Regions from separate parts of the Homo sapiens genome. Here all the other regions are linked to region 2. Evidence: fine-mapped expression QTL. A gene starts in region 2. Each other region holds a variant in brackets. All regions are shown on one strand. Distances are from middle to middle.

Evidence for each region. PIP is the estimated chance that this variant, and not a neighbour inherited with it, causes the effect.
Region 1: its variant is the best candidate, but not a certain one, in a credible set for the expression of LCP2 in whole blood (TOPMed, PIP 0.76).
Region 3: its variant is the best candidate, but not a certain one, in a credible set for the expression of LCP2 in tibial artery (GTEx, PIP 0.76).

Annotation. Positions count from the first base shown.
Region 1 is chr5:170,245,785-170,255,944 of GRCh38, reverse strand. It overlaps C5orf58 (chromosome 5 open reading frame 58), which reads right to left. Exons shown (of 4, transcript NM_001102609.3): 4 at 9,714-9,983. The coding sequence ends at 9,832. It overlaps LCP2 (lymphocyte cytosolic protein 2), which reads left to right. Exons shown (of 21, transcript NM_005565.5): 18 at 2,732-2,826; 19 at 3,434-3,511; 20 at 5,060-5,215; 21 at 7,126-9,712. The coding sequence ends at 7,248. Among named protein-coding and RNA genes, the nearest start is that of C5orf58, 18 kb to the right of the region's middle. The variant C/G (reference allele first, on the strand shown) is at 7,784.
Region 2 is chr5:170,293,129-170,303,288 of GRCh38, reverse strand. It overlaps LCP2 (lymphocyte cytosolic protein 2), which reads left to right and starts at 5,512. Exons shown (of 21, transcript NM_005565.5): 1 at 5,512-5,755; 2 at 9,917-9,979. The coding sequence starts at 5,678. RefSeq lists enhancers at 1-243, 6,330-6,409.
Region 3 is chr5:170,234,061-170,244,220 of GRCh38, reverse strand. It overlaps C5orf58 (chromosome 5 open reading frame 58), which reads right to left. Exons shown (of 4, transcript NM_001102609.3): 2 at 10,023-10,106; 3 at 9,151-9,244. The coding sequence starts at 9,244. Among named protein-coding and RNA genes, the nearest start is that of C5orf58, 6.2 kb to the right of the region's middle. The variant C/G (reference allele first, on the strand shown) is at 2,541.

The DNA of each region.
Region 1 (10,160 bases), 47 kb after region 2:
TTCAGTAAGTCCGGAGTGAAGTCAGGGACCTGTGTTTTTAATAATACCACCTCTGGACGTCCATGATTAGTATTCGCTTAGAGTGTTCTGCAACTTGAAAGTGCATATAGATCACCTGGGAATTGTGTTAACATGCAGATTCTAATTCAGGAGGTCTGGGGTGAGGCCTGAGTTTCTGAATTTCTAACATATTCCATGCGATGCTGTGACTGCTGGTTCATGAACCACTTTGAAAGGCACTGGGGCAGGACTAATTTGTGCTTTTTATCCTTAAAGACTTGCAAGTGACAGGCACTTGGTAGGCACTTTAAAAATGCTTGTCGAATGAGCATCAAATGACTAGGGAAAGTTACCCAACTCTAGTAAGTAGCATTCCAGGAAACTGGCTTAGCATTGCCAGATTTTCCAATTTTTTTCTCAAGAAAAGTGAAATTATTTAATTTTTAAATGTTGACTTAAATTTTTAAAAAATGCTGTGAAGAATGACAACAGAAAAGCCACTTTTTTTGCAGTCATGTTCCACATGCAGTGTGTGCACGGGCCAGTGTGTGTTCAGTAGAAAACTATGTTAGTAAATGTGAGTTGATAGCCTGAGAATCAACATTTTTTCCAAGAACACATCTAGGGTATTCAGTTGGATGCATCATTCCATAGAGGGGCGAGATCCCACTGCTGACGCCAGTGGCACCCACTAAGTTTTCAATGTTTTCTAAGCATTTGAGGTTATGGTGGTGTCCACGTTCACCACATGGTTTTCACAGTTTCTCGCCCAACCCCTAATTTTCCACAATCCCCAAAATTCTCTGTGTTTTGCAAACACACATTTGTGTTACCTCCTTGCCTCTGTAGCCATCTGAGTCCCAGACACATCACAGCATTATTTTCCAAAGCAAGTTCCACAGATCTCCAGTTTTATGAGTCTGTGATGGGGCTTATTAATGCAAATAGTTAATTATTTTTGGAACATTAGCTTGATCCAAATTGATCTCTTTTCCCCTAAGACTGCCAGGACACCTGGTCCTCGGTCTTCTCTACTGGTTCTACTGGTTGTTCCAACATCAGAAGGATAAAGTTTGTGCTGTGCATTGCCCAAAAACCTGTCATGACTCCCTTGAGAGTCTAGATATTAAGGGTGGTAGGTGACTGCAATAAAAAAGTGTATGTGCTTCTCTGTTGTAACTTAGAACTCTATGATGCTGGCCTGCAGGTGCAGAGGCAGAAAGAGAATCATTTCTTAACTGTAGAATGGCCATGCAATGCGGGCCTTGGTTCTGTTACTCTCCTGTATTGTTAGGTTTCATTCATTCAACAAGCATTATAAAAGTGCAAGTGTTGGACTGCAAAAAAAATGGGGATGGGGAAGATCTGTCTAGGCACTGGGAACTTGGAGAAGGAAGGCACTGGCAGCTCAGGGCCAGCTTGTTTAGAAACAGGGAAGGAGCATCTTAAACAATCCTGTTGATGTGGCTCAGGAGACTTGTTTAAAAACAGGGAAGGACCATCATAAATAATCTTGATGATGCGGCTCAGGAGGCTTTAGCCCTTACAGGTGACTCTCCTCTCCTCAGTGGTGTAACAAGGTAGACGTAGTGACAATCCGTGGTGTAGAACCACCGGAAGTACTTGCTAACATGCAGATTTCTGAGCCCCAGGTGCTCGCAAGTCGCCCAGGGATTCTGACTCATGCACAGTAGCATTTGGTAACCACAGGTTTAAGTTTTGGCTTTGCCACTGATAGCGCATGATTTGCTTAGCCTCTGAGCCTGTATTTCCCCATATGCAAAATGAAGACAATACCTACCTTGTAATGTTGCTGTGAGGATTAAAAAAAATGTACACACGATACCTTACTCAAGATCTGGACAGAGTTGTGCTGAATAAATATTTGTTGAAGGTATGAATGAATGATGGTTAAATAATTAAGAGAACATTTGACTCACAGAATTTTTCTGTTTTTAACCACAGCCTGGCACATAGAAAATACCCTGGGCAACTGCAATAAACACAACTAAACCTTTCCTGAGATTAGGAAACATTCTCCTAAAGTTTCAAGGAACTGTAAATGAGAAAAAAGAGTTTTAGAGAAGATGAGGCACAAGCACTGGGTAATTAATAGTTGCCCAGTAAAAACTTCCTGATCTGTAGTGCCTTCTATGTGAGTTGAACAGTCTACCTGTTTAGTTAGAACAGCGGGTAGCCAACTTTGATTCTAAAAGCTAGCAATATTCTCAAGGTAATTTTGTCTTCTCTTGGGTCACTTACATTTCTTTTTGTGGAAACATTAAGAACATAATTATCTTCATCATTGCATTGTCCCTACATCAGCTGTTGGGAATCCATTCTGCCTATGATGATATTATAAGAATCTATGAAAAATTTGTCTCTTGAGCATTCATTTTGACGTTCACATTCATTAAAACAATTGCGAATTTTTTTATAAAGGGATCTAGTCACTTTATATTATGTAACATGCACATTTAGAAAAATCACTCAAAGTTGAGGTTCTCTTCTCAAAGTTTTACTGGCATGATTACAGAATAATGCCTGAGCAGCCCCCATGGTTTCAAACAGATGAAAATTATTTTTGAAGCCCTTGTTTCTTAAAATGCGAACTATAGGACCAATCGCAAGGGTATTTTTTTGGGGGAGTGGGGGGAATGTGTTTTGTGTTTTGATAGCAGCAAACAATAGCTTACAGTAAATTAACTGTCAGAATTCTATACTTTTGAAGGCCCTAGCAACAGACCACCTATCAGAGCCGAAGGCAGAAACTTCCCCTTGCCACTTCCAAACAAACCTCGGCCCCCATCCCCCGCGGAGGAAGAGGTAAGAGAGCATGTTTTTATTTTTGTTTGTTTGCCTTTTCCCTGGTAAAAGAATCACCAGAAACTCCCATTGAATGTTCTTCTGTACTTTTATCTTCCCTTTGTTTTATTTTATTTATTTGAAAAAAAAGTTAAAGGAGAAGATCCAGATGAACAATATGTTCTTTTCCCTTGGCGTTCTTTCAGACGCTTTCAATGGCAAACATGTGTTTTGCATTAAACAGCAAGAAAAATAATCCTGTTTTTTATGTTTATGACCTTGATTCGTCACTTAACTGCTCAATAACCCATTTTTTTAATCAAGCAGGTTATTATGCTAAACTGAAGAAATTATTGTATCTGTATCTTTCCTGAAGAGGTTCCATACTGTAAGGAACTCTTATTCACAGGCATTTTTGCAACCAGTGTCATGATAAAAAGCAGTTCGCACAAAATATCTTCTATTTAGCCCCAGCTAAATGACTCTGAATGCAAATTAAGAAAACAAATGTTTCAGACCTCCTGGAATTGAGGTGTTGATTTATGGAAATGATTACTCAGAGGCTTTTCTTTTCACTTACATCTGTAACTGTAAAATTTATTCAGTTTCTAAAAATTTACATTTTCAGAATTCATTAAATGAAGAGTGGTACGTTTCTTATATTACCCGACCAGAGGCAGAAGCTGCTCTTAGAAAGATAAACCAGGTATTGTGCTATAGTTTATTTTAACATAGTTGTAAATATTAATGGCAGAGAAGGGAACTGACCTGTCCTGAGTACCAATTACAGGCTAGGAATTCTGCTAGGTGCTGTTGCTTTCTGTAATACCTAGGAGACCCATTAGTGCCAGCTTCACAACTACCAGCACCCATAGCAGGGATTCCTAGGCTCGGGAATCATTAGGCTGGCAGAAGAATCTCAAGGCAGTCATTTGGTTGGCAGCATCTTAGGAGATTTTATTAATGAAAGAGTCTGTCTTGTCATAGGAATCACATGGTGTCAGAAGGAGACTCTCTTTCAAAGTTCCAACATCGTACCAGTTCTATCTTCCTCTTAACACAGACGTGCCATCCATGTTGATGTGAAAGGACCAATATTAAAGAGATGGCAGCAACTTTTTGCTTTTTGCCCTAGACGTTTCTAGCTAGTCCTTTAATATCATAAAGTCTTAAACATATTTCCCGTAGCCAGTGCCGAAACTTTACCTTAGATTTATTTATCAGAAATGGGAAAGCAAAAATCTTTCATCTTTCACACTTAAACTCCACACCAGTAGTTCTCAGTAGTAGTTGCACATTTAGATCACCCGGAGAACTTTTGAAAAATCCCGATTCCTGGGTCTCACCTTGAGATTCTAATTATTCTGGGGGTGCTGTGTCAGCTCTGGGAGTCTTCAAACTTCCCAGGTAATTCTAATTTGAAGCCAAGACTGTGAATCACTGGTCCAGAAGTATGTTTGTTTAGCAGAGATGTTCTGACAGGCTCAATTAACTTGCAATAAAAGGAACAAAGGAAAGTCATTATTGCCAACTCATGGCTATTTAAAGCTATCCTGATTTGGTATGAGGAGAAGGGAGTAGTTTAAAGGAGTCCTTACCAATTAATTCTATTTTAATATTAGATCTTTACAGTATTAATATTATGTAGCAATAATTTATTGAATGGAAATTTAAAGTACAGGACAATCAAAACAGTAGTTTAGCAAATATCAGAAAAAAGAAAAGAAAAGAGAACATCTGCATTCAATTTTGCTCAAGGGTCTGATGAAGGAAAGACTATCTAGAGATCACAGGGTTTTAAGAAGGGTGAATTTCATGGCATGTGGATGTTTTCTGACTTTGGATGTGGAAAAGAAAGTTTAGGGAATTAACTCACAGGAATACTAGGAAGATATATCTTGAGTTAACCAATAAAGTATTTTATTTCTCCTGGCCTTTTATCCACTCAACCACCCATTATTTATTACTGAACAAAAGATTCCGTTTTTATCAGGAGGCTTTAACGAGATTGACTTGGAAATTTCTTTGATACAATCTCTGTTGCCTTTCTTAATAACAAAATAACTCATGACACATGGGATATGTAGCTGTTTGGAGAACTGAATGTTCGTTGAATGACAGGTTTTGCACTCAAGAAGCTGCAAAGTGCAACTGACATGTTTGTCAGATCCCTAGAGGCTTGTCTACTACTCTTACAAGCAACAAAAATATTGACTTTTACTGCTCCCATAATAACAGGAATTTGTCTTTTTAGGATGGCACATTTCTGGTCAGAGACAGCTCTAAAAAAACAACAACCAATCCATATGTCCTCATGGTGTTGTACAAAGATAAAGTTTACAACATCCAGATCCGTTATCAGAAGGAAAGTCAAGTTTACTTGTTGGGAACTGGACTCCGAGGGAAAGAGGTAAGGATTTCAAATTTCGACATTTTCCCAAAGTCTTTATTTATGCCACTCTGCATGCCTTCATGGAGCGATCTTTGAGAGTCCGTGCTGTATGGCAAATTTAGGATTAAATCACATGAGTGAAGCCCTTCATTTATTGGAAGAGAAATAAAGCAAAATCTTTACAATGGTTACTTCTGCCATAGGATTCTTTCTTGTATATCTTTTCTTTCAAATAATCACATGTATAATTTTCAAAATCAAGAAAAACTATGTTAACTTAAAAAAATCTATTTAGATGGTGTCAAAGGAAAGTTCCCACTATTATTCACCTCTGTGGCATAATTTTAACGTAGGCTGCATTTTAAGTTGACACCACCTGGAAAAGGGGAAAAATTAGAATATTTGCTGGGGTGATTATTCAAATACTTGGCTCATTTCTTAACAAAATGGAGGTTTGGCTCTGTGAGGATGGCCAGATCGCCAAAGAAATTCTCTGTTAGGCCAAGGTTTAGATTCTCATGCCAGTCACTTTTTGAGTGCTAATCAGAACGGATGGAAAGAAACCCTCAGGGCTAGTTTTTCGCAAAGGAAACTAACAACTGAAGGTAACGCCCCAAACATACTCTAAGTTCAAAGTTCCAAGAGGAGGACCAGCTGAATCAAACATGTCCAGAATGAGAAACAGCTTACCCATAACTTCTGCTTCACATACTTCTGTTATGATAATGTTAATGAATAGAAAAAAAATGCATGCTTGTGATCAAATGTTTGAATCGCTGGTTGGCAGTGGATAGAGCTGCACAGACCCTATAGGAGCAGAGGTATTTGCCCTTCAAGATTTATCTTGGTCCAGTGTGGAAACACACAAGTGCAGACCAACCACTCATTGCAGCTCCCATGGAGGGAGGCACCTAGCAGATTAGTCTTAAAGGAAGTGCATTATCCTGTTAGGGTTCCTAGGTGAGTTGTGACCCACATCTAGAAAAATGAGTTAGGCTTTTCCCTCTCTAGCAAGCAATCAAGGCTGGGGCGATCCAGGCTATGGCTGCAAATATTGGTTGCTGAGCCTTTATGAGTGTGAAGGTGGCAGTGAGGACACAGCAGAGAGATCATGAAGGAACTCCTGTGCCATGCTGCAGATCCCACCTCTAGACACCATGAACCGTGTCTGACCTCCTGAGTCCTTATGTTTCCTAACACTATTAATGACTGGGGGTGAAATAGAGATGCAGAAACCAAAACCAAAACCAAAAACAGAGCAACCCGAGGCAAGAATATTGTAATAGTGACTATTTAAATGACCCCTTCATATGAAGTTAAAAATATATGCATTTCAAATTACATATATATATATATAGATATGTAGATATATATATATATATATACACACGCATGCACATATTTTATCTATTTTTTTTTGAGATGGAGTTTCCTTCTTGTTACCCAGGCTGGAGTGCGGCAATGGCGCAATCTCGGCTCACTGCAACCTCTGCCTCCCAGGTTCAAGCAATTCTCCTGCCTCAGCCTCCCAAGCAGCTGGGATTACAGGCGCACACCAGCACGCCCAGCTAATATTTTTCTATTTTCTAGTAGAGACAGGGTTTCACCATGTTGGTCAAGCTGGTCTCAAACTCCTGACCTCAGGTGATCCACCGGCCTTAGCCTCCCAAAGTGCTGGGATTACAGGGGTGAATTACTGCACCCGGCCCATATTTTATCTTTATCTATGGTTTGTTGGATGTTTATGAGGAATTTTTTCAAAGTTCTATAGCAGAAATCATTAAACTAATTGCCACATTTACATTTTTTCCCCCCACAATCCTCATCACTTGAAGAGGCAGCATATATTATGCAGATAAAAAAACTGAAAGTGAAGTTCCTGCTTTTCATTCCAATGTTGACTCATCTCCCTATCTTGACTCTTTCAGGACTTTCTGTCTGTGTCAGATATTATTGACTACTTCAGGAAAATGCCACTTCTGCTCATTGATGGGAAAAACCGAGGTTCCAGATACCAGTGCACATTAACGCATGCTGCAGGGTACCCATAGCAAGTTATAGCCGAGCAAATGAACCGTCCTCCTGCCTCTGTTGCCAACACGAGATCAATCAGCCTTGGTCAATGGACAAACACTTAGGACTGAACTGAACCCCTCCCCATGAACACAAGGGTTTTATCCTTTCCTTTAAAAACAGTGTTTGAAATGAAGACTGTCAACTATCCCATAATTTATTTATTCTTCTTCAATGTTTGTAAAGTGCATGAGTCATGTTCACACTTGAAGTCTAGTAGTGCACTGTAATAATTCATTTTTTAAAAGATTATTTAATGCCCATTTCAAAATACAGTAGTTTACACAGCTACAGAAACAATTTGGGGCAAGTTTTAAAACACTGAAACAGTAATAGTTATTGGTGTCACATAAAACTGATTTGTTTTTTACAGCCAAACCTCTGTCAGTCAGAGGCATTCATTAGTTTTATACATGTAATTTGAAAATCACTAAACCTCGTTTTCTCAGCAGCAATAATTTAAGAGGCTTCAAAAATATAATTTCACTCTTATTTAGTATTTTTTCCTGGGGG[C/G]ATTTTTACGTAATTTTTTTATGAAAAGACAAATGCATGTTGAGATAACTTCTGGGATTAAAATAGTCTTTTGCTTTACTTTTTTGGTTTCCTAAAACAACTTTATTGACTTTTAGTCCATACTGTTATATTTTTGTCTTAAAGAAAATTTAAACTACAAATACCAAAAGAAAACATTTTAAATTTAGGGATGAGACTTTGGTGTATCGTGGGTCTAGGTTTAATGAACACATCTGGGGTTAAGTTGGCATTTCTTCACATCTCCACACCCACACCAACCATCACAGCCCCCCACCAACCTTCTCCCAACCCCAAAAGCATTGTCCAGGGATATAGATTTTACCAAAGGCTTCCTGGGAAGACGAGGGAGCAACACTTTAGATTAAATGTGATCAGACTTTCCTATTAGATATGGCTCTTCTGTCTCTTGTTATCCCCCTGACAGCTCTGCCATAAAGTCCCTTCTCCTCATCCTTCCCAAACAGGCTGTATAAGTGCTTTGAGGTAATTAAACTCTTTCCTCCAGTTTACAAATATCACTTAACAAAAAATATAGGCATTCAGCCAGATTAAAAAACTGGTATTCAGCCAAATAGTGACAATCAGTTGTTCTTCAAGTTTTTCCCTTTGGGACCTTGGTTGTTATTGCACAACTTTTATTAGCAACAATTTTTGGCGTCTCTGCTTAATCTACAAGTTTTCGAAATGGAAAAGAGTATCTTGCAGCTTCATTTTCATGAGCTAATAAAAGGGGTATTGGAAGGAATCTAAGAAGTCACCATTTTAAAACTGATGATATGTTAAAATAAGGAGTATGCAGAAGGTAGAGACTTTTAACTGATGATAAAAATGGTGTTTCACAAAATCTCATCCTTAACAACCAGAAGTTCTCAGTTTAGGGTCCAAAACTTGGGAGTTTAAGGCTGAAAACCCTGCATTCATTTACACGTCTACACAACGGGCTATTCAGCAAGTATTTACTTAGTGGCTCTTCTGTGTTAAACAAGTGAGCTAGGTACAAGGTAGTAAGGATAGCATACACCATAGGTTCTAGTATCGAGTAAGCTCCACTTGTCTTGCTTTGCCGTATTCTATCTTTACAATTCAAAAATATCTAAAATGAAGGACCTGATAGATTTCAAAGCAACTATTTGGTAGCGAATCATGTTTATAAAACAAACCAAAGCTCATTTTAAGTCTATTAGTGGAAAGTGCCATCAGGATTAAGATGTTCTGTTCCATGGCTATGACTGAAATCAATGTTGGGAAGCTAATGTTTTCATGACTAGCATTCTCTCTCTGTTCAAGCACCGACAACTCCTTTTGGCTGGGCCTTGCCTCTTTTGGCCACAGACCTTCTATATGACCCCAGGTGCATCAGTCACAGTTGCTCAGAACCCTGCTCAGTGATAAACATCTTACTAAAGCTGGGTCAATCAGGGTCACTCTCTGGAATGTTAAACATGAAGCCTGAGACAAGATCTCTCTTTTATCTGGGGTCCCCAAAGGCAATGCTGTACACTTGGAGCTGCCTGCTGCCCTGCAACTACTCCCATTTACCAATTATCTGGAAGAACCAGTCTACAATAGAAGACAACGAGGCCAACACACAAAAACACAGTAAAAGTATGGACAAATTAGTGGGATCCCTGAAATCTATTCCAACTATGTGCTTCCAAGTCACATGACTCAATAAATGCTTCAGCTGGTTGAGTTGTGCTTGGCGTTCACTACCAGGAGAGTTCTGATTAATAAAAACTCATTCCATCAATTAATAATTTAGTAGCTCTCTTTCAACCTGAGCCAAATTCAAGCATAAGCTAAAGGATAAGCAGTGACCCATGGCCAATTTCCTATGTCATACACTTGCCATTAGTGACGTAAGTTAAGCCATTCTTCAAAACATTAAACAGCCTTCAAGAACATGAACTGCTTGTTTACATTATTTTTATTTTGTTTTAAATTATATATATACAAATTAGTAAACTCAACTCTCCCAAATATTTGTTAGTTCAACAATAAAACAGAAACTCATAACAAATAAGAAATCAGATAGAAAAACTGTTAGAAACAAGGGATACATCTGATATTTTAGACTCTTCAAAGAGGGGGTTGTTTCTTTCTGCTTCTGCTAAGTTCTCAGTCTTGATGGGATGATTAAAATGTAGGATAAGGTCACAAAGCAATAACTGGGAGAGCTCTGTGCAAAACAAAACAGGAGATATTATATTGTAGCACATATGTCATAAAAAACTATTATTGCTTTAAGTAGCTATTTCTTCCTAATTCCTAATTTCCAAGTGATTAGTGATCAAACCACAACTTAAGTGTGTCCCATTCTGACTTAAAATAAGATTTATGCTCTCGAGGAGCCAAG
Region 2 (10,160 bases):
TTCTGAGGCAACTTAGCTAAAACAGCAGAGCAAGGCACACAGAGAAAGGGGATGAAAGAGTTTTTTTTAAAAGAATGAAATTGTCAACTGGGAGGAAGTGGAAAATATTGCTTCTCGTTGCCTTGCACAGGCTGGCCGGCTCCCAGGACGGGGGAGGTCAGAGCTGTGTCCAGGCCTGGGGGCAGGGAGTTCAGTGACTGTCGAGGTAGAGCGGAGTGTGGCCTGCAGGAGGGCTCCTATGGGGTTGCTGCTCCAGCCCCCTCCCCACCGCCTCCCACCCACGGCCGGCAGGAGTGCTGTGAGCACTGGCGCTCTGCATGGAGGATGCGTTGCACGGGAGGCAGGTCTCCCCCTGCCTGCACACTCTTTCTGAGGCCGGCTTGCCGAGTTCTGTGCCTTCTAGTGTGGCTGCTGGAGTGGGTGGGCCCCTCTGTCCAGCAGAGCAGTCAGGACCCCTTCCTGGTTCCGCTCGCTCCACTGGACTCTCTCATGTGGTGGAGCCCTTTGCCATCCACAAGGATCCCAGGCATGGAGGGTGCTCCCACTGCCTGCCTTAAGGATGGAGGGGAAAATTGCCCCCTCTCTCTGTGAGGATGACAGCTGCAGCCTTTGCTCCCATGCAGGCCCTCTAGGAAGTTCCAACAGCAAGGGACTTCAGCCTCTGGTGATAAATCTGAGATGTTAAAAAGTTGGTGGGAGTGAGGCTGGGTGGACACGGGCAAGGGCATCCTCAGATTGCCTGTGGTGTCTGTGTCACGTCAGCATCCTCTCTGGGCCACGTGCCACCACCTTATTCTCTCTCCCATGGTCAGGACCCTCTGTCCAAGTCAAATTCAAATAAGCACTTCCTCCCACCCACCTTCTAACTTCTTGTGTTCCTCTCCTAAGAAGGTCAACACATTCTCGTCTGTAAAGTCCCTGCTTTCCATTCTCCCCGTCCCTAAGCATCAACTCCCCAGACCCTTCCCCCAGCCCCACACACAGAAGTTGCAACTCCCAAGTCTCTTCTAAGGAATTGTGCATTTCTCTCGCCTCTAGAATTAGCGGTGAAGGAAGGCAGTTATCTGCCCACATGATTCTGCTGTGGGTCAGATGGAAAGGGAGGGAGCTGGGAGTCTGGACGTGATGGGTGGGGTGGGGAGGAGATTCAGGCGATGCCCTGGGCTGCAGTTTGCTGCTCCCACATCCACTCTCACAATCTGACACAGCCTCCCTGCAGGTACTGCTTTCTTGTCCACAGGCTCCACTGGTTGTGCAGTAAAGGTTCCTATCCCTTGGCCGGACGTGGTTGCTCACACCTGTAATCCTAGCACTTTGGGAGGTCGAGGCAGGCGGATTGCCTGAGCTCAGGAGTTTGAGACCAGCCTGGGCAACAAGGTGAAACTCCATCTCTACTAAAAATACAAAAAATTAGCTGGGCGTGGCGGCATGTGCCTGTAGTCCCAGCTACTCGGGAGGCTGAGGCAGGAGAATTGCTTGGACCTGGGAGGGGGAGGTTGCACTGAGTAGAGAGGGCACCACTGCACTCCAGCCTGGGTGACAGAGTGAGACTCCATCTCCAAAAACAAAAACAAAGAAAAATCATTCCTATTCCATGAGCCCTGTTTCTGTGTAGGAGCAGAATGTTGTCTTTTTTTTTCTTTTTTTTGAGAGGGAGTCTTGCTGTGTCACCCAGGCTGGAGTGCAGTGGTGCCATCTCGGCTCGCTGCAACCTCCGCCTCCCAGGTTCAAGCAATTCTGTCTCAGCCTTCCCAGTAGCTGGGACTATAGGCACTCATGCCACCACGCCTGGCTAATTTTTGTATTTCTCGTAAAGGCAAGGTTTCACCATATGGGTCAGACCAGTCTCGAACTCCTGACCTCAGATTATCCACTCACCTTGGCCTCCCAAAGTGTTGGGATTGACCCACAACGTGACTCACAGGCATGACCCACTGTGCCCAGCCCCTAGAATGTTGTTTTTATTCTGCTCAGAGGTTGTTTACCTTTTCCCAAATCTTGAGCTATGCATCACAAAGCCTAAGAAGGCCTCTGTAACCTCGTTCCTCGTTCGTACCTGCGGAGTTCTCCACCTGGTTGGGGGAGGGAGACAGACATGGGCGAGGGTATCCCCACCACTGCTTCAAATCACTATGCCCTACTGGATCCCCACCCTCTGCTCTGCTTCATGCTTGAAGCCAACAGACAGATGCTGTACACCCAGCTGCTGCCCCTGGCCTCCATGGTCATGGCAGCCACGCTGTCGGGGGCTGTACCCAGAGGCTGCTTTCATGGCCGCCCCATTTTGGAGGTGAGGGGCCTGCGGCTGAGCCTGCACAGGGTCACAGTGGTCCTTCTGGTCTCCTGAGTCTCTCTTGGGGGCTAACTAGCCCGGTCTCTGGAGCTTCAGGAACCCGCCAGCCAGAGACAGGAGATGTGAAACTCGTGAGTGTTGGGAAATCAGCAAGGCCTGGGGAAGAGGAAAGCCTCCAGGCCTGAAGCAACATGCTTCCCCTTGCACCAGCTGCCCTTTCTGAGGAATGGGCCTGTGGTTCTGTGGGGAGGGGGCACCAAGTGCCCGCCTCATGCAGAGTGCTGCATCCTTTACTGAGCTTGTTCAGATTGACAACCTCTCTTTCTCCTCACCAGAGGCCACAGAGAAGAAACTGCGCAGGCTCTGGAGACAGACTGGGTTTGAATCCCAAGTCTACCTTAGGCAGTTTCTGTAACATCTCAGAGCCTCAAGGTGGCAAATGGCCAAGGACAGGGGCTCTGGACTCAGATCAACTTTGGAAGAGTCCTGGATTCACTCCCTACTTGCTGGGTTCAGGGGGCAAGTAGTTCACCTCTTGGAGCCTCAATTTTCTCTTCTGTAGAGTAGGAGCAACAATAGTGCCAACAATTAAGACAGTCAGTAAGAAGTTCTTAGCTTGTGCTCTCTGGACCATAGGAAGAGCTCAAGGCATCGTGTCTCTTTATGTTTCTCAAAGTCACCATTATTGTCATCCAGGTTTCTTAGCTGCTTTGTCTGTCTTCTAAATGAGCTCCATGGATCCTCCATCTTGGCCACATTAATTGGATAATTCTTTCTAAAGGAGCCTAATATTTAGTGATACCTTCATTACAACTGCTTTTTTGTAGATTTTTCTTATCCTGAGTGGGGTGAACATCATTAAGAAAATTAGGCCAGTCTTGGTGGCTTACACCTATAATCCCAGCGCTTTGTAATGCCAAGATGGGAGGGTCGCTTGAGACCAAGAGTTCAAGAACAGCCTGGAAAACAAAGCAAGACTCCATCTCCACAAAAGAGTAAAAATAAAAAAATTAGCCGAGCATGGTGGTGCATGCCTGTACTCCCAGCCACTTGGGAGGCTGAGGTGAGAGGATCACTTGATCCCAGGAGTTCGAGGCTATAGTAAGCTATAATTGTGCCACTGCGTTCCAGGCTGGGCAATAGAGGGAGGCCCCATCTCTAAACATAAAACAAAAGCAAATAAAAAGGAGAAATTAAAATAAAATAAAGTAAAATTGCTTCTACTTTTAAGGATGATCTGGAATGTTCCTTTTCATAGGTGGCATGTGTTTTGAGAGATAGCGAGAGAGAGATTGATTGATCCACGTCAGGAATGCCCTCCCTTTTACTCCATCCTCCACGGCCCTGCTTAAATCCCAGTTAATTCCATGACATCTTCTGTGCTTACTCTACTTCAAAGTGATTTCTCTCTCTCTTTCTCTTCAAATGGCTTTTTATTGTTCACTGCTATGCTAGTGATTTGAAAGACCAGGTGACCTCTCACCCGTGATGGAGCTTTTGTACAGCAGAGCTGTGCTTTATACAGAATGATCAGCTACAAAGAGCTCTTAGGTGCGGCCCAGGCACAATGGCTCACGCCTGTAATCCCAACACTTTGGAAGGCCTAGGCGGGCAGATCACCTGAGGTTGGGAGTTCCAGGCCAGCCTGGCCAACAGGGATAAACCCCGTCTTTACTAAAAATACAAAATTAGCTGGGCGTGGTGGTGCATGCCTGTAATCCCAGCTACTCGGGAGGCTGAGGAAAGAGAATCGCTTGAACCTGGGAGGCAGCGGAGGTTGCAGTGAGCCGAGATGGCACCATTGCACTCCAGCCCGGGCAACAAGAGCGAAACTCCGTCTCAATAAAAAAAAAAAAAAAAAAAGAAAGAAAGAAAGAAAGAGAGAAAAGAAAAGAGTTCTTAGGTGTGAGGCCCTGCAAGGAGCAAATGGCCTGGGCTACCTTCACTGATGCCCTCAGCACCTTCTAAGGTGAGGCTAACACCAGCTCACATTGATGAGCTAGTGCTGGGCCTGGAGCAAAATGTGTATTTCATTTAAGCTGCCCACCAGCTTGTGAGGCAGGTGCATTACCGTGACGGCGGGGCTCCTCAGAGTGTGTATAAGAAGAAAACTGTGCATGGCCAAAGCTATGCTTGAAAACCCTCAGGAAGGCACCACCTCAAGGACCAACATAGCATCACTTAGTAAAGGCAACAGCCTTGGAACAGATGACTCGTGTGTGTGTGTGTGTGTGTGTGTGTGTGTGTGTGGCATTAGATGAAGTAGTAACTTGTGTTTAGAGGTTGCCTTATTGCACAAATATAGTTGCTTTTATACACTGGACTCACCCTCTGCCAATAAGTTGTTCAGTTATGAGAAATGAACAATGTCTGAAACTAAGAAAACAGCAAATTCTCACCTCCTATCTCCAGGGAATGTGCTCTTTGGCTAGAATATATGGCAGAATCAATAGTGAATAAAATATATTGTGGAAACAATAGTGAATGGAATATATGACACTACCAATAGCAATTGTTAAGTTTTTTTTCTTTTTAATTTTTCTTTTTAGGTTTGTCTAGTTGAATGCATCTAAGTTTTATGTGCATATGAAGAATCACTGTTTTCCTATTATACAGATTTGGAAACTGAGATTCCCAGCTTTTAACTCCTTGCCTAAGGTTGCATAGCACAGAAATAGTCATATCAGAAACTGAGCCCTGTCTGCACAGTGTAGCACCTTGTTCAGCCCTGGGTGCCTGACTCACTCACTCCTTGAGGACCCTCTCATGACAACTGTAAAGAGGCAGCTGAAAGAATCCCAGTCTTTGATGGTGGGAGGGGAAAGTGGTTGGAAAGCATTAAAAAAACATGCTCCAGCAGTTCACTGATGTGGGAAATTGTCTGTATTTCAGGTCAACCGTCAGGATAGATTTTGGTCTGCAAAGCCCCAGCTGAGCAAGAATGCAGTGTAGACATATGGGTGCCCAGAGTTTAAAGGAAAATTACTCAGACTCACATTGGAGTTTAAGACCCCTTCATTGCCTCTCCTACTGGGTTGGGGTGACTGGAGCCAGTGGGGAATTACCAACCCTGTGGCTCTCTCTGCATCTCAAGCCTCCAGAGCTGGGCTTCCTTGTTTACTTATTTAGAGCCCAGCAGAGGAAGTGGTAAAGGAAACTAGCTGAGTCGTTTTCTGAGAAGAGACCATATTTGTTCGCAGAGGAAGCCGTTGCTTTCTGGGATCTGGCTACGCCAGAAAAGACATCGGCTCCAACAGGGGTGTTCCACAGGGTAGCTGGGAGTTGGAAGAGCCAAGAACGCCTCCGAGCTCTGGATTTGAGCTTCTCTGCCCATGGGTGAAGCGCCCATGCTCAGCTTGTGAGCTTCTTCCCGGGAGAGCAGCCATGGCACTGAGGAATGTGCCCTTTCGCTCAGAGGTCCTGGGCTGGGACCCCGACAGCCTTGCTGACTATTTCAAGAAGGTAAGCCTTGCTCTTGTGTGAATGGTCATGATGCTAGTGCCCTTGGTGGGCTGAGCTGAGGCTTGACGATGGAATTGGGGCAGAATGTGGGAGGTGTATAAGATAGCAATGGAACCCTATGGCAACTTTACTGGTTGAGTGAGCGCCATATAGACCGCTGAGTTTTCCTGACCATGAGTTCCGGAGAGAAGGATGGGAGCAGAAGCCCTCAAATGAGTATGTGCCTATTATGTGCTAGGGTTTGAATTCGGTGTCTCACAGGCACTGTCCCATTTAGCGCTCCCTACTATGTTGTGAGGTCAGCATTGTTATCCCCTTGACTCAGCTGCAAAATCAGCTCAGGGAAGTGAAATGGTCCGAAGCCCTAGGGACTACATGTGATAGAGGCAAGACTCAAGCCACACCTATCTGGTTTTAAAGTCCATGCTCTGAGATGCAGAGAACTGTTGTAACTGCTAATGAGATCAACGCTACTTACTAGAAAGGGGAGACGTGGTGTCCTGGAGGCAGGAGAAAGAATAGGCAGGGTGGGAGGGCTGGATAGAGGACTATGATGAGCAGTGCCAGACACAGCATTTGGGCTTTCACTGCTCACGACCCTAAGGGGGGTCCTCAAGCTCCCGCCTGGGGCAGTCTCCTTGGAGCCTTATGAGAGTCTTGTGAAGCAGGACAGAAAACTGATGTGAGCCCCAATTTATAGCTATGAAAACTGAGGCCCCTAGAGGAAAAGAGGCTTGTGGCGGTGCTGGGACCAGAGCGTTGCTGTCTTATCTTCTGGACTTAGAGGAAAGGTTGAAGGATCCCTGTGCTTGGTCATTGGCAGAAGGGGACAACGCATCTGCTTGGGCAGATCTCAAGCCACATGACTTAGTTATAGTCCCTCTACCCTGACCATGTGGTAAGATGACTTGTGCGAGACGGTTAAGCTTCTAACACCCTCATCCCTGCAGGCTGGCATCGGATTCTGTTGATATTCCAGACTGTCATAAAGATGAGATTGTAAAGCTAAGATGGTAGAAGTCATCTAATTCAGCTTCGTGTTTTTCCTGGGGAAATTGAGATTCAAGAGGGTAGACGAGGTTCCCTAGGACGTATAGCCAAACCTGGGGTCTATGCATTTCCGAGGCATTTATAGTCACAGCTGTTCTCCCCCAACCTGAAGAAGAAAATGAGAACATGTTGAACTAGGTGTGGTATGGTAGGGGTACAGTTCACAGATCCTGTTTTTTGCCATATTTTGTGCTTTCATTTCTGTTATTTTCCTTCTGCAAGGTCATAATAAACTTAGATTTCAGCAAATATTGTTGCGCAACTGGTTTTTTGAAGGATGTTTCTAAATATCTTGCTCAAATATAGACCAAATAAGATAGGGCAACAAGGTAAAATTTGCCAAGAGGGAATAAAGTGGCATGTTACCTTGATAAGGGAAAAAGAAAGGAATTGAGAATTATGAAGAGAAAGACTTGGGACGGGCTGAGAGGCACAGATAGGCCTAACATTCAGGTGTGACCAGGAGAATTATACAATCCAATTGAGCAACAGAGAATTGATCCCTAAAACTCCCATCAGTACAGGGAGATGGACCACGGGTCAGGGATGGTACAGGAAGACCTCACTGCCTGAGCTGGGGGAAGGGAGAGTTTTCTTCCTGGAGATCTCAGACCCCAGGACAAATCTACAGCACCCAGGCAGGTTCCTTCTTCTGCCATAAATGGACTGAGGGAAGAAACTAGGAGACTGAGGCAAATCTGTGATCCTGGAAGTTCTAGTCCCTCCACAGACTTGGATAGAAACCCTTCAGATTCTGAGTACCTCAGCCCCCTGAAAGAAACTACCAAACGAATGGACCGCAGAGTCATTTGGGAATGGATCTTAGCTGTCAAACATGACATGTAAAGAATTGATCTGCAGATGCAAACTCTACCCAAGTAGTGGGGTCAGGCCTCCCTTGGAGACAGCTCTCGACTCAGCTCTGAGGTCGGACACACTTTACCCTGGCTCTGCCACCTGCTAGCTTGGCGACTTTCCTGTAGTTGCTTTGCCTCTCTGTGCCTCAACTTCCTCATCAGTGAAATAGAGATATGAACAGTAACTAACCCAATGGGTTGGTTGTGAGGATTAAAGCAAATGATGTGTGCAAGGCACTCAGCAGACAAATGGATCCTAATGCGTGTTCCTTCTGCCCTTTTACCTTCTCTATTAACTGGCTCCTAGCTGGGGACACCCATGCAGACTGGTGGGACTTTGCGTCTTCTTGTCTCTGACATGGGTACCTCGTCCTGTGTCTGGAATATAAGCTCCTGAGGACAGAGACCATGTTACATATTTGTTCAATCTCTCCAATTCCTTTTGACTTGCAGGAGAACATCCTTGGGTCGTGCAGTGGAGAGGCACTGGCTCAGAGCTGTGTGTCCTAATCCCAGGTGGGGTCCCAGCTGGTATCCCAGCTCACTGTGTGACCTTAGACCAGCCTCTTTCCCTCTAGAGGCCTCAGTCTTCCTTACTACAAATCCAGGTAACTTTTCTGGACCAGTGCCTACCAATGCTGGATGCCATAGGAATCGTCTAGGGTGCTCCTTAAAAATACAGATTTGAGGTCCACAAGCCTAGATCTTGCTGGAGCAGAATCAAATGCCTGGGTCCCAGTCTGCAGGACTCTCTGCTGATCTAGACACAAAGTTAGCACTCTTCAAAATCATCTGGTTTATCTCATAATGATAACAGTGAGAATGATGAATTAAAGGCAGTTGACTCTTCCAAGAACCACTTACCCCCCACTGCCTGTAGATAAAGGGGATACCAGGGCTCCATAGATGGGATGTGCTTTCAATATCAACTTCTAAGTCAGCTTTCTGAGTGTGATAATCATCCCACCCTTCCAAGCTAAGATTTCATAACAATTGTATTTATTCTTTGGATTTGCTAGCTATAAGATAAAAATATGGCTTAAAATGTGCTCCAAAAGAAGGCTGCCACAAACCATGAGGCCCACCCTTGTGAGAAGAACCTAGGATCCTCAAGGAGAAACATTTAACCTCAAATGCTCCACCCCAAAGCAGCAAGTTGAGAGATACTTCAAATGTGAACATTTATGCTGTTGAGGACAAGTTGAAACTAGCACCTCATATGATTGCTGATTGGTCTAGGAAAATAACCAAGATCTTAAAAATGCTCGTTCCTATGGATCCTATATAACTCGGTTCTGAGGTTCTGACTTAAACAATTTATCTCAAAGAGGGAGAAAAAAGTTCGCAAAATAGTATCCATGATTGTCTCTATTTTGATTGGGATGAGGTACTGCAAACAAATGAAGCTGCATTTTCATTTGCTCATTTTACTTACTGTATATAAGTTATGCTGTAATTAAAAGGGGAATATTTCTGAAAGAGACATTAAAGCCTGTTCTGAAACTTGTCACCTAAAACCCATGGAACCTCATGCAAGTTACTTGCTGTCTGTGCCTCTCATTCCCCATCTGCAAAATGTGAGGGTTAAATGATTGAAGACTAGTTTAACTACTTGGTACACTGCCTGCCACACAGAAAGCTTTCGATAATTGTTCGCCGTTTTTATTATCATTATTGAAACAGCAGCTTGGTAAATAATCTAAATGTTCAGCAATAAGGGCATGATTAAATAATGTTGTGGTCATTAAAATTATTTTAAATTGAGTTTGCATAACACTAGGCAGTGTTTATATTATCCCTTTAGGTAATTTAAGAGAAAAAAGTCAGAATAATGAGATTGAATATAAATCATAACCTCAATTATGTTTAGAAACATGCTAGGAAGAAAGCATGGAAAGAAACACCGAGGTCGTCTCTGGGCATCGAGACAATGGATGGTATTTCTTTTCTTCTTTTAGCTCTCCTTCCTGAGGAGCATAGGGCAGAGCTCTGCATGCCTTGAAGGCAGTCTTTCTGTAAGGGTTGGCCCCGAAGCCTTAGAGCAAGGCAATTTCTCCATTTCAGGCAGTCCCAAGGGGGTAGTGAAAGCGAGGCTGAGGTGGGGACTGGGCCCTCTGTTAGCCAAGGGAGGGCAGTGGGGAGCCTGGCTAGCCACAAGTACCGCAAAGTGCTAAGTTTCTGGGGCAGGCAAGGGAGAGGAACCAATGGTAAGAGACTGCCCGTCACTAACAACACCTTCCCCTTCTCTTTGCAGCTCAACTATAAGGACTGTGAGAAGGCAGTGAAGAAGTACCACATCGATGGGGCTCGCTTCTTGGTAAGCTCTGGCTAGTCCAACACACTGAAACCAAGACTGTTCGGCACTTTTCCCCATGGCTGCAGGGCCAACTGGCCTACCCTTTCCCTGGGGACACCCGAGGATCCCTTTGCTTTTTCCAGAAATTTGGTAGGGCCCCCTCTCTCACTACCTTTCAGGATCCTATCATCCAGAACCCCTC
Region 3 (10,160 bases), 59 kb after region 2:
AGGAAAAAATGTTAAGGGCAGCCAGAGAGAAAGGTCGGGTTACCCTCAAAGGGAAGCCCATCAGACTAACAGCGGATCTCTTGGCAGAAACCCTACAAGCCAGAAGAGAGTGGGGGCCAATATTCAACATTCTTAAAGAAAAGGATCTTCAACCCAGAATTTCATATCCAGCCAAACTAAGCTTCATAAGTGAAGGAGAAATAAAATACTTTACAGACAAGCAAATGCTGAGAGATTTTGTCACCACCAGGCCTGCCCTAAAAGAGCTCCTGAAGGAAGTGCTAAACATGGAAAGGAACAACTGGTACCAGCCGCTGCAAAATCATGCCAAAATGTAAAGACCATCGAGACTAGGAAGAAACTGCATCAACTAATGAGCAAAATCACCAGCTAACATCATAATGACAGGATCAAATTCACACATAACAATATTAACTTTAAATGTAAATGGACTAAATGCTCCAATTAAAAGACACAGTCTGGCAAATTGGATAAAGAGTCAAGACCCATCAGTGTGCTGTATTCAGGAAACCCATCTCACGTGCAGAGACACACATAGGCTCAAAATAAAAGGATGGAGGAAGATCTACCAAGCAAATGGAAAACAAAAAAAGGCAGGGGTTGCGATCCTAGTCTCTGATAAAACAGACTTTAAACCAACAAAGATCAAAAGAGACAAAGAAGGCCATTACATAATGGTAAAGGGATGTATTCAACAAGAAGAGCTAACTATCCTAAATATATATGCACCCAATACAGGAGCACCCAGATTCATAAAGCAAGTCCTGAGTGACCTACAAAGAGACTTAGACTCCCACACATTAATAATGGGAGACTTTAACACCCCACTGTCAATATTAGACAGATCAATGAGACAGAAAGTCAACAAGGATACCCAGGAATTGAACTCAGCTCTGCACCAAGCGGACCTAATAGACATCTACAGAACTCTCCACCCCAAATCAACAGAATATACATTTTTTTCAGCACCACACCACACCTATTCCAAAATTGACCATATACTTGGAAGTAAAGCTCTCCTCAGCAAATGTAAAAGAACAGAGATTATAACAAACTATCTCTCAGACCACAGTGCAATCAAACTAGAACTCAGGATTAAGAATCTCACTCAAAACCACTCAACTACATGGAAACTGAACAACCTGCTCCTGAATGACTACTGGATACATAACGAAATGAAGGCAGAAATAAAGATGTTCTTTGAAACCAACGAGAACAAAGACACAACATACCAGAATCTCTGGGACGCATTCAAAGCAGTGTGTAGAGGGAAATTTATAGCACTAAATGCCCACAAGAGAAAGCAGGAAAGATCCAAAATTGACACCCTAACATCACAATTAAAAGAACTAGAAAAGCAAGAGCAAACATGTTCAAAAGCTAGCAGAAGGCAAGAAATAACTAAAATCAGAGCAGAACTGAAGGAAATAGAGACACAAAAAACCCTTCAAAAATTAATGAATCCAGGAGCTGGTTTTTTGAAAGGATCAACAAAATTGATAGACCGCTAGCAAGACTAATAAAGAAAAAAAGAGAGAAGAATCCAATAGACACAATAAAAAATGATAAAGGGGATATCACCACCGATCCCACAGAAATACAAACTACCATCAGAGAATACTACAAACACCTCTACGCAAATAAACTAGAAAATCTAGAAGAAATGGATAAATTCCTCGACACATACACTCTCCCAAGACTAAACCAGGAAGAAGTTGAATCTCTGAATAGACCAATAACAGGAGCTGAAATTGGGGCAATAATCAATAGTTTACCAACCAAAAAGAGTCCAGGACCAGATGGATTCACAGCCGAATTCTACCAGAGGTACAAGGAGGAACTGGTACCATTCCTTCTGAAACTATTCCAATCAATAGAAAAAGAGGGAATCCTCCCTAACTCATTTTATGAGGCCAGCATCATTCTGATACCAAAGCCTGGCAGAGACACAACCAAAAAAGAGAATTTTAGACCAATATCCTTGATGAACATTGATGCAAAAATCCTCAATAAAATACTGGCAAAACGAATCCAGCAGCATATCAAAAAGCTTATCCACCATGATCAAGTGGGCTTCATCCCTGGGATGCAAGGCTGGTTCAATATATGCAAATCAATAAATGTAATCCAGCATATAAACAGAGCCAAAGACAAAAACCACATGATTATCTCAATAGATGCAGAAAAAGCCTTTGACAAAATTCAACAACCCTTCATGCTAAAAACTCTCAATAAATTAGGTATTGATGGGATGTAATTCAAAATAATAAGAGCTATCTATGACAAACCCACAGCCAATATCATACTGAATGGGCAAAAACTGGAAGCATTCCCATTGAAAACTGGCACAAGACAGGGATGCCCTCTCTCACCAGTCCTATTCAACATAGTGTTGGAAGTTCTGGCCAGGGCAATTAGGCAGGAGAAGGAAATAAAGGGTATTCAATTAGGAAAAGAGGAAGTCAAATTGTCCCTGTTTGCAGATGACATGATTGTATATCTAGAAAACCCCATCGTCT[C/G]AGCCCAAAATCTCCTTAAGCTGATAAGCAACTTCAGCAAAGTCTCAGGATACAAAATCAATGTACGAAAATCACAAGCATTCTTATACACCAATAACAGACAAACAGAGAGCCAAATCATGAGTGAACTCCCATTCACAATTGCTTCAAAGAGAATAAAATACCTAGGGATCCAACTTACAAGGGATGTGAAGGACCTCTTCAAGGAGAACTACAAACCACTGCTCAAGGAAATAAAAGAGGATACAAAGAAATGGAAGAACATTTCATGCTCATGGGTAGGAAGAATCAATATCGTGAAAATGGCCATACTGCCCAAGGTAATTTATAGATTCAATGCCATCCCCATCAAGCTACCAATGACTTTCTTCACAGAATTGGAAAAAACTACTTTAAAGTTCATATGGAACCAAAAAAAGAGCCCGCATCACCAAGGCAATCCTAAGCCAAAAGAACAAAGCTGGAGGCATCACACTACCTGACTTCAAACTATACTACAAGGCTACACTAACCAAAACAGCATGGTACTGGTACCAAAACAGAGATATAGATCAATGGAACAGAACAGAGCCCTCAGAAATAACGCCGCATATCTACAACTATCTGATCTTTGACAAACCTGAGAAAAACAAGCAATGGGGAAAGGATTCCCTATTTAATAAATGGTGCTGGGAAAACTGGCTAGCCATATGTAGAAAGCTGAAACTGGATCCCTTCCTTACACCTTATACAAAAATCAATTCAAGATGGATTAAAGACTTAAGCGTTAGACCTAAAACCATAAAAACCCTAGAAGAAAACCTAGGCATTACCATTCAGGACATAGGCATGGGCAAGGACTTCACGTCCAAAACACCAAAAGCAATGGCAACAAAAGACAAAATTGACAAATGGGATCTAATTAAACTAAAGAGCTTCTGCACAGCAAAAGAAACTACCATCAGAGTGAACAGGCAACCTACAAAATGGGAGAAAATTTTCACAACCTACTCATCTGACAAAGGGCTAATATCCAGAATCTACAGTGAACTCAAACAAATTTACAAGAAAAAAACAAACAACCCCATCAAAAAGTGGGCGAAGGACATGAACAGACACTTCTCAAAAGAAGACATTTATGCAGCCAAAAACACATGAAAAAATGCTCATCATCACTGGCCATCAGAGAAATGCAAATCAAAACCACAATGAGATACCATCTCACACCAGTTAGAAAGGCAATCATTAAAAAGTCAGGAAACAACAGGTGCTGGAGAGGATGTGGAGAAATAGGAACACTTTTACACTGTTGGTGGGACTGTAAACTAGTTCAACCATTGTGGAAGTCAGTGTGGCGATTCCTCAGGGATCTAGAACTAGAAATACCATTTGACCCAGCCATCCCATTACTGGGTATATACCCAAAGGACTATAAATCATGCTGCTATAAAGACACATGCACACGTATGTTTACTGCGGCATTATTCACAATAGCAAAGACTTGGAACCAACCCAAATGTCCAACAGTGATAGACTGGATTAAGAAAATGTGGCACATATACACCATGGAATACTATGCAGCCATAAAAAATGATGAGTTCATGTCCTTTGTAGGGACATGGATGAAATTGGAAATCATCATTCTCAGTAAACTATCGCAAGAACAAAAAACCAAACACCGCATATTCTCACTTATAGGTGGGAATTGAACAATGAGATCACATGGACACAGGAAGGGGAATATCACACTCTGGGAACTGTGGTGGGGTGGGGGGACGGGGGAGGGATAGCATTGGGAGATACACATAATGCTAGATGACGAGTTAGTGGGTGCAGCGCACCAGCATGGCACATGTATACATATGTAACTAACCTGCACAATGTGCACATGTACCCTAAAACTTAAAGTATAATTAAAAAAAAAATAAGATTTATGTTATTACAAAATAAGCATGACATAAAAACTTACTAAAAGGGTGCTCTTTAGCCCAACTTCTCGGCTATATCACTAAACTGCAACTTGATTTATACAAATTTGATTTATATGGTTTTAACTTATTTTTATCTATGTTATACATGCATATAGTACCAAGAATCAGATAAGTCTAAGGCATGTTACAAAAAAACTGCAGTTCCAATCTCCCAGAGGCAACCATTTTAATTTTTTTTTTTTATAGCTCACTTTGTTTTTGTTGCTTTGGTCATTTCAGTGTGTCTGTTTTGAGTATTTTTATTGTGGGGAGTGGTGGGGTGGTGTTTACCTCTGTAACTTTAAATTTTTTGAGATTTGATTTTTTTTTTTTCAATTTTCAGTGTTACCTGCCTCTGACACAGAAGATTAAGATACAGCTCTTTCACACACCCTCTTCTCTCCCAATATACTTCAGGAAAAATTTTTGCTTAGCTCAATTATCTAATGTTTAAATGTTAATTATACAAATATTCTTCATAGCTGAGTCTTGTCATATGACATTTTCCTTCCTGCACGCAACCCACCAGAGGTAATAATTGGGTTTTTGCATTGCTGCATTATCAGAAATATATCCTAAATGTCCCCCAATTGAGTAAATTTGCTCTTGGGTTATTCAACACCTTAGCTATTCTATTGTTAAACGTCTCTCCTCTCCTGGAGCCTTCTGATTTGCTCCAATCTGAACTGATTGCTTACTAGCACTGCTGTACAGCTGGTATCTTGGGAACTCCCTTCACTAATATCCTAGAGACTCCTTTTATCCCTCCATTCTGTGGAGTGCCCTTTTCCCCAGATTCCTGTGTCTCTCTTTTTGATCTGTTCCCTTGTTTGGTGACATATAGGCTCAGTAACTTCCAGAGGGAATAAAATTATATGTCTGAAAATTTATCTACACTAATCCTTAATTAGGTTGACTAGCTATAGAAATCTAGGTTGGAAATCATATTTTTTTCAGATTTCCAAAGGCACTGCTGCATTGTCTTCTAGGTTCCAGTGAAGCTGGAGTCATATGAGAACTTTCATATGATTGTTTTGTTTTCAGAAGCTTTACAGATCTTTTTGTTCTCTCAGTAGACTGAAATTTCACAACATTCTGCCTTGGTATGAGCCTATTTTCATGCACTGTGGTGGACTCTTTCATTGTAGAAACAAATGCCCTTCAACTCTAGGAAGTTTTCTTTATTTCTTTAATGAATTGCCCTTCATTCCTTGTGTATGTTCTCTCTTTCTAACACTCTTATTTGTTGGATGTTGGACTTCCTTCACTTACCTAATCCTTTTCCTCCCCATCACCAACACTTTCCATCTCTTTTGTTTTGTTTACACTCTAGAGGAATTTCTTCATTTTACCTTTCAACCCTTCTATCGAGTTTTTCATGTCTATGGTCACATTTTTAATTTCCAAGAGCTCCTTCTTGTTCTCTGAATATTTTTTATAGTATGTAGTTCCTTTTTCATGGATACAGTATCTTCTCTTCTCTCTGAATATTAATAATTTCTTGAAATTTTCATCTCCCCTCATTATTTGTTTCTTCCTCATTGAATCTGTTGATTTTTTCTCTGCTTTTTAATATTAGATTTGTCCCTCAAGTATCTGTTGTGCCTTAGTTGCCCATATTTAAGACTGTGACACTAAAAAGACAATTGGAAGTTCTGCACCTGTGGTACTCAATAATGTGGGGTGTTCTGGCTGGGTTATTTTGTTGGGAGAACCTCTGCTATTAGTATCTTTAGATCTTTTATCTTAGGCTGGTCAGATTCCTGAGAGAAAAATCTACTTGGTGGGTATAAATCTGGCTGCCAGTATTTTGGTAGCCCAGTGAAGGAAAAAAAACTGGGGGTCTTGTAATTTTGTAAGTAAACTTTGTTTCAGTGTCCTTCTTTACAGTATACTACTTTCCCTCAACCTATGACTAGTGGTTCCAGGGCAAATATCCTTGTTTTAACCTCAAGTCTTTTGTCACAGTGAAGGGATAGCTGCCCAGCTATGCAGAGGGCAGAAGAGACCTCAGGGATCTACAATTCTTATATATTTAACTAGTCTTCCTATTATCCAAATTTCACCCCTACTTCCAGAAGATCCTGGTGCCACCATGAATTGAGTCGTAGGGGCTATTTTTGGCTTTACCCAGCCAGCTTAGGGTTCAGATTTTTGGGCTTTGGGGTTCAGACTTGTCTATTTGCTTCTCCATTTGCCTTTTGTTTTGTTATCTCTTCTTGGAATCTCTTTACTTGTGGATTTTTGTCTCTTTAAAAATCACTTAAATTTAAATCTCAGGTGTACCACTGACTAGTTGCTTGACCTTGAAAAAGTTAAATCTCTCTATTTACACATCTGTAAATGCCAATGGCAATAGTTCCTACCTCATAGGATTATGATGAAGAGAGTTCATTTATGCAGAGCTCTTAGAAGAGTCCTGGATTATGGTAAATTCTGTAAAGGTTGGCTGCTGACATTACTATTTAGGGGAGGAAGTGAGGGTGCACAGAGTGTTCATTTAATCCTCTACATTTACCAGAAGTCTACCTTCCTAGCGTAGCTCTACAGGTCCCTCAGAGTCTAACTGCCTGACCTACCCATACAATGTCTCAAGAAAACATCTATCACATAGTTATTACATTTTATTTTATGAAAGAATATTCTCCAAACTAGAACAATTAGATAATCAAGTTTGGGGGGAATCTAAAGCTTCTTAACTGTTTTAAATGAGTTCAAGCATCCAGAACCATTTATTCATTTAATAAAAATTTTTTAAGAATCGAATCAATCAAGGCACCGTGTTAAGTACTAGAAATACCCATAAGGAGCTTACAGTTGAGCAGGGATAAGAAAAGTAAGGAAATATGCAATTATAAAATAGTATAACAGGTGATAGCAAAAGGCAGAAAGGATAACATGCTGGCTCAAAAAAAGTTTTCCATTGTAAGAGACCTTGACTACTAGCAGTTAACCTGGTGTGTTGGAGGTAGGGTATAGCAATGGGATTTCAGACAGACAAGTATGTGTTGAAACAGATACAGAAAAGCACTTGTGGAGATATGCAAATAGTTCAGTACAGCTGGAGCATAGAACATGCAGTAAGAACAGAGTAAGAGACTAGAGGGGAAAGGAGGGGAATGATCTGAGCAGGTCATATAGTCCATTCTAAGATGTTTAGACTTTATCCTGAGGACAATGGTGAGCCAATGAGGGTTTTCTGCAGATTCGCATTTTAGAAGGAGAATCTTCACTGTGGTGTTGAAGCTGGTTTTGAGAAATGATGAATTAAAGGTAGTCAGATTTCTTAATATGTACTGTAAATTTGTGAAATATGTAGCATAAAGCACTTTCCAAACTTATTTGGCCATAAGAACATTGACTCTGTTCTACTGTACACCATCTATTAACATTGCTTGAAACAGCAGGGTTCACAGATCAAAGTCCAGGAAATGCTGTCCTAGGGAGAACACATGGAAAAAGCATATTAGGCACTCATTATTTGGTGCCTAACGAACGGCCATGCCCTCTTCTTCTTGGAGTCACAGCTTGATTTTGTTTGAGGTGTTCCTTTCCCCAGCTCCTGTAGTAAGTTCTGAGTGGTCCAAACTGGTCTTGGCAGTCCCAGTCCCCTTAGCTGTGGCTGCTGTAAGCATCAGCATGTGATGCAAATCTGGCCAATGAAAGGGAACTGTGCTGGAGGGATCTGGGAGGAGACTTATAAAAAGAGACTGTCTATATATGAGCACCTCTGAAGGTAATGATCATGAGGGGTAATAAAGAGAGTGAACATGACAGAGCAGAAAGATGGAAAGAGCCTGGTCCCTGACAAAATCTTTAAACCTCTGAATTAACTTTAGGGCTCTGCTACCTTGGATCTTCTTGTTTTTCCTTATTGTATAAGTTAAGTTGGTTTTTTTGTTACTTATAGATGTAGGCCTCATAACTGACACAGGTTATCTTTAAATACCCAAGAGTTGTTTTAAAAAGAATAACTACATATTCAGTGTAGTTTTCATGGTTAGAAATAGGACTCTTAGGTGAAAGCAATAGGGGAACAGATTTCAGCTAGCTGGTGAGAAGGAATTGTTTAAAATAGAATGGATTGACTAGTGAGACAGGAAGTTCCCCAGCATAAGAAATGTTTGGTCAGGGATAGATTATCCCTAGAAATATTCAATCACAGAAATTTTCTTGGGATAAAATAACTGAATATGTCTGTGAGGTGAGCGACTAAACATCATGACCTATAAGGTCTAATCCTACTATATGAATCTGTTTAAAATGAAGAAGCTTTAAGTCACAGAATCTAATTTATACTTTTTAATTTGGAATGGACCTTAGGGGCTTAGTAAGAATTTATAAAGACAATGAATTTTGCTGAATGTGACATAGTCTTGAATGGTGTGTTGAAGGGAAGGAAGGGAAGTAAAATTTACAGAGGTTAGACAACCTGATAAGCTTATTAATGTCAGGGATGGGAATTCAGGTCTGCTAACTCCAAAGTCGAACATAATTCATCTTTAGAGATCTAGTTCACTTACACTGAAAACATTTGTTAAGAAATAGAGAAATCCTAATTAGTGGGCAAAATTTACTTATACCCCAGCAGAAACACAAACTGGCTCTATCATTTATTTTATAACAATGACATGCAAACATTTTAGTGATTCAATACTTACCTTTTATCTTCTTCAACTCCGAAGAAATTGTGTTAATATTTTTAATTACTTTGTCCACATTTAGCTTATGATCAGTAACACGCTTCTTACCCATCTGATTTTAAAAGAAAAACAGAAACAATGTATAAATCAGTATTTATGTGTACTTTTAAAATACTTACATTTTCAGTATTTCTATAAATCTGTTATTTCAGAAATAATTATGAAACAAATCTTTATAAATGGTTAGAATTCTAACATCAAAAGGCATTAATGTGTTATGTAATATTTTTCCAACTAAAAACTCCAACTGGAATTTGTAGGATGAGGTTCCTTCCTCAATCAAACCATATCCACAAGATAGGGCTTACAATGGAAATGAAGATGTCCCCTTTTCAGAAAGCCTCAGCCCTTATAAACTACCTTACAATTTAGCGTTTGTGTTAAGATCTTCTCTAATTTTGTTTATGTAAGTCCATGTCTTTTTCTAACTTATTCTTGAATAACAGGGCCCACATATGATTTAAGTACACAGTGAAACTCAAAAAAGAATTTTATTCTAATTCATTAAGAGGATAATTCAATTATAATCCACTAAGAGTATGGCAAATGGCTGGTTTGGTTTTGGGAGTTAGAGTAACAGACATTTTAATTTTGGTTAACTGAAATGTATAAATCAACGCATTCCTATGTTATACAGTACCTGTATTTAACCAATTGTGTCAGATACAAATATACAGAGAGGTGGTTCACTAGAAACTAGTCTTAAGCTGTTCAGTCTCTCAAAATGACTTGAAAAACTCCATCTCAATTAGCATACACAACTCCAGCAGTGTGAAAGGTGGGCAGTCATGGGTCAAGCTGCTTGTCCAAAATAATGAAAACAAACTAACCTTTAAGTCAATCCTTGCCTCTACCTTTTCCTGAGCAGGGAGAATTTCTGCAATTTCTCTCATTTCAGAGCCACTGTAAAAAAACTAATTTTGTTTCCCAGACATTAATAAAATGCGCTTTGCATCTACCCCCAAGAC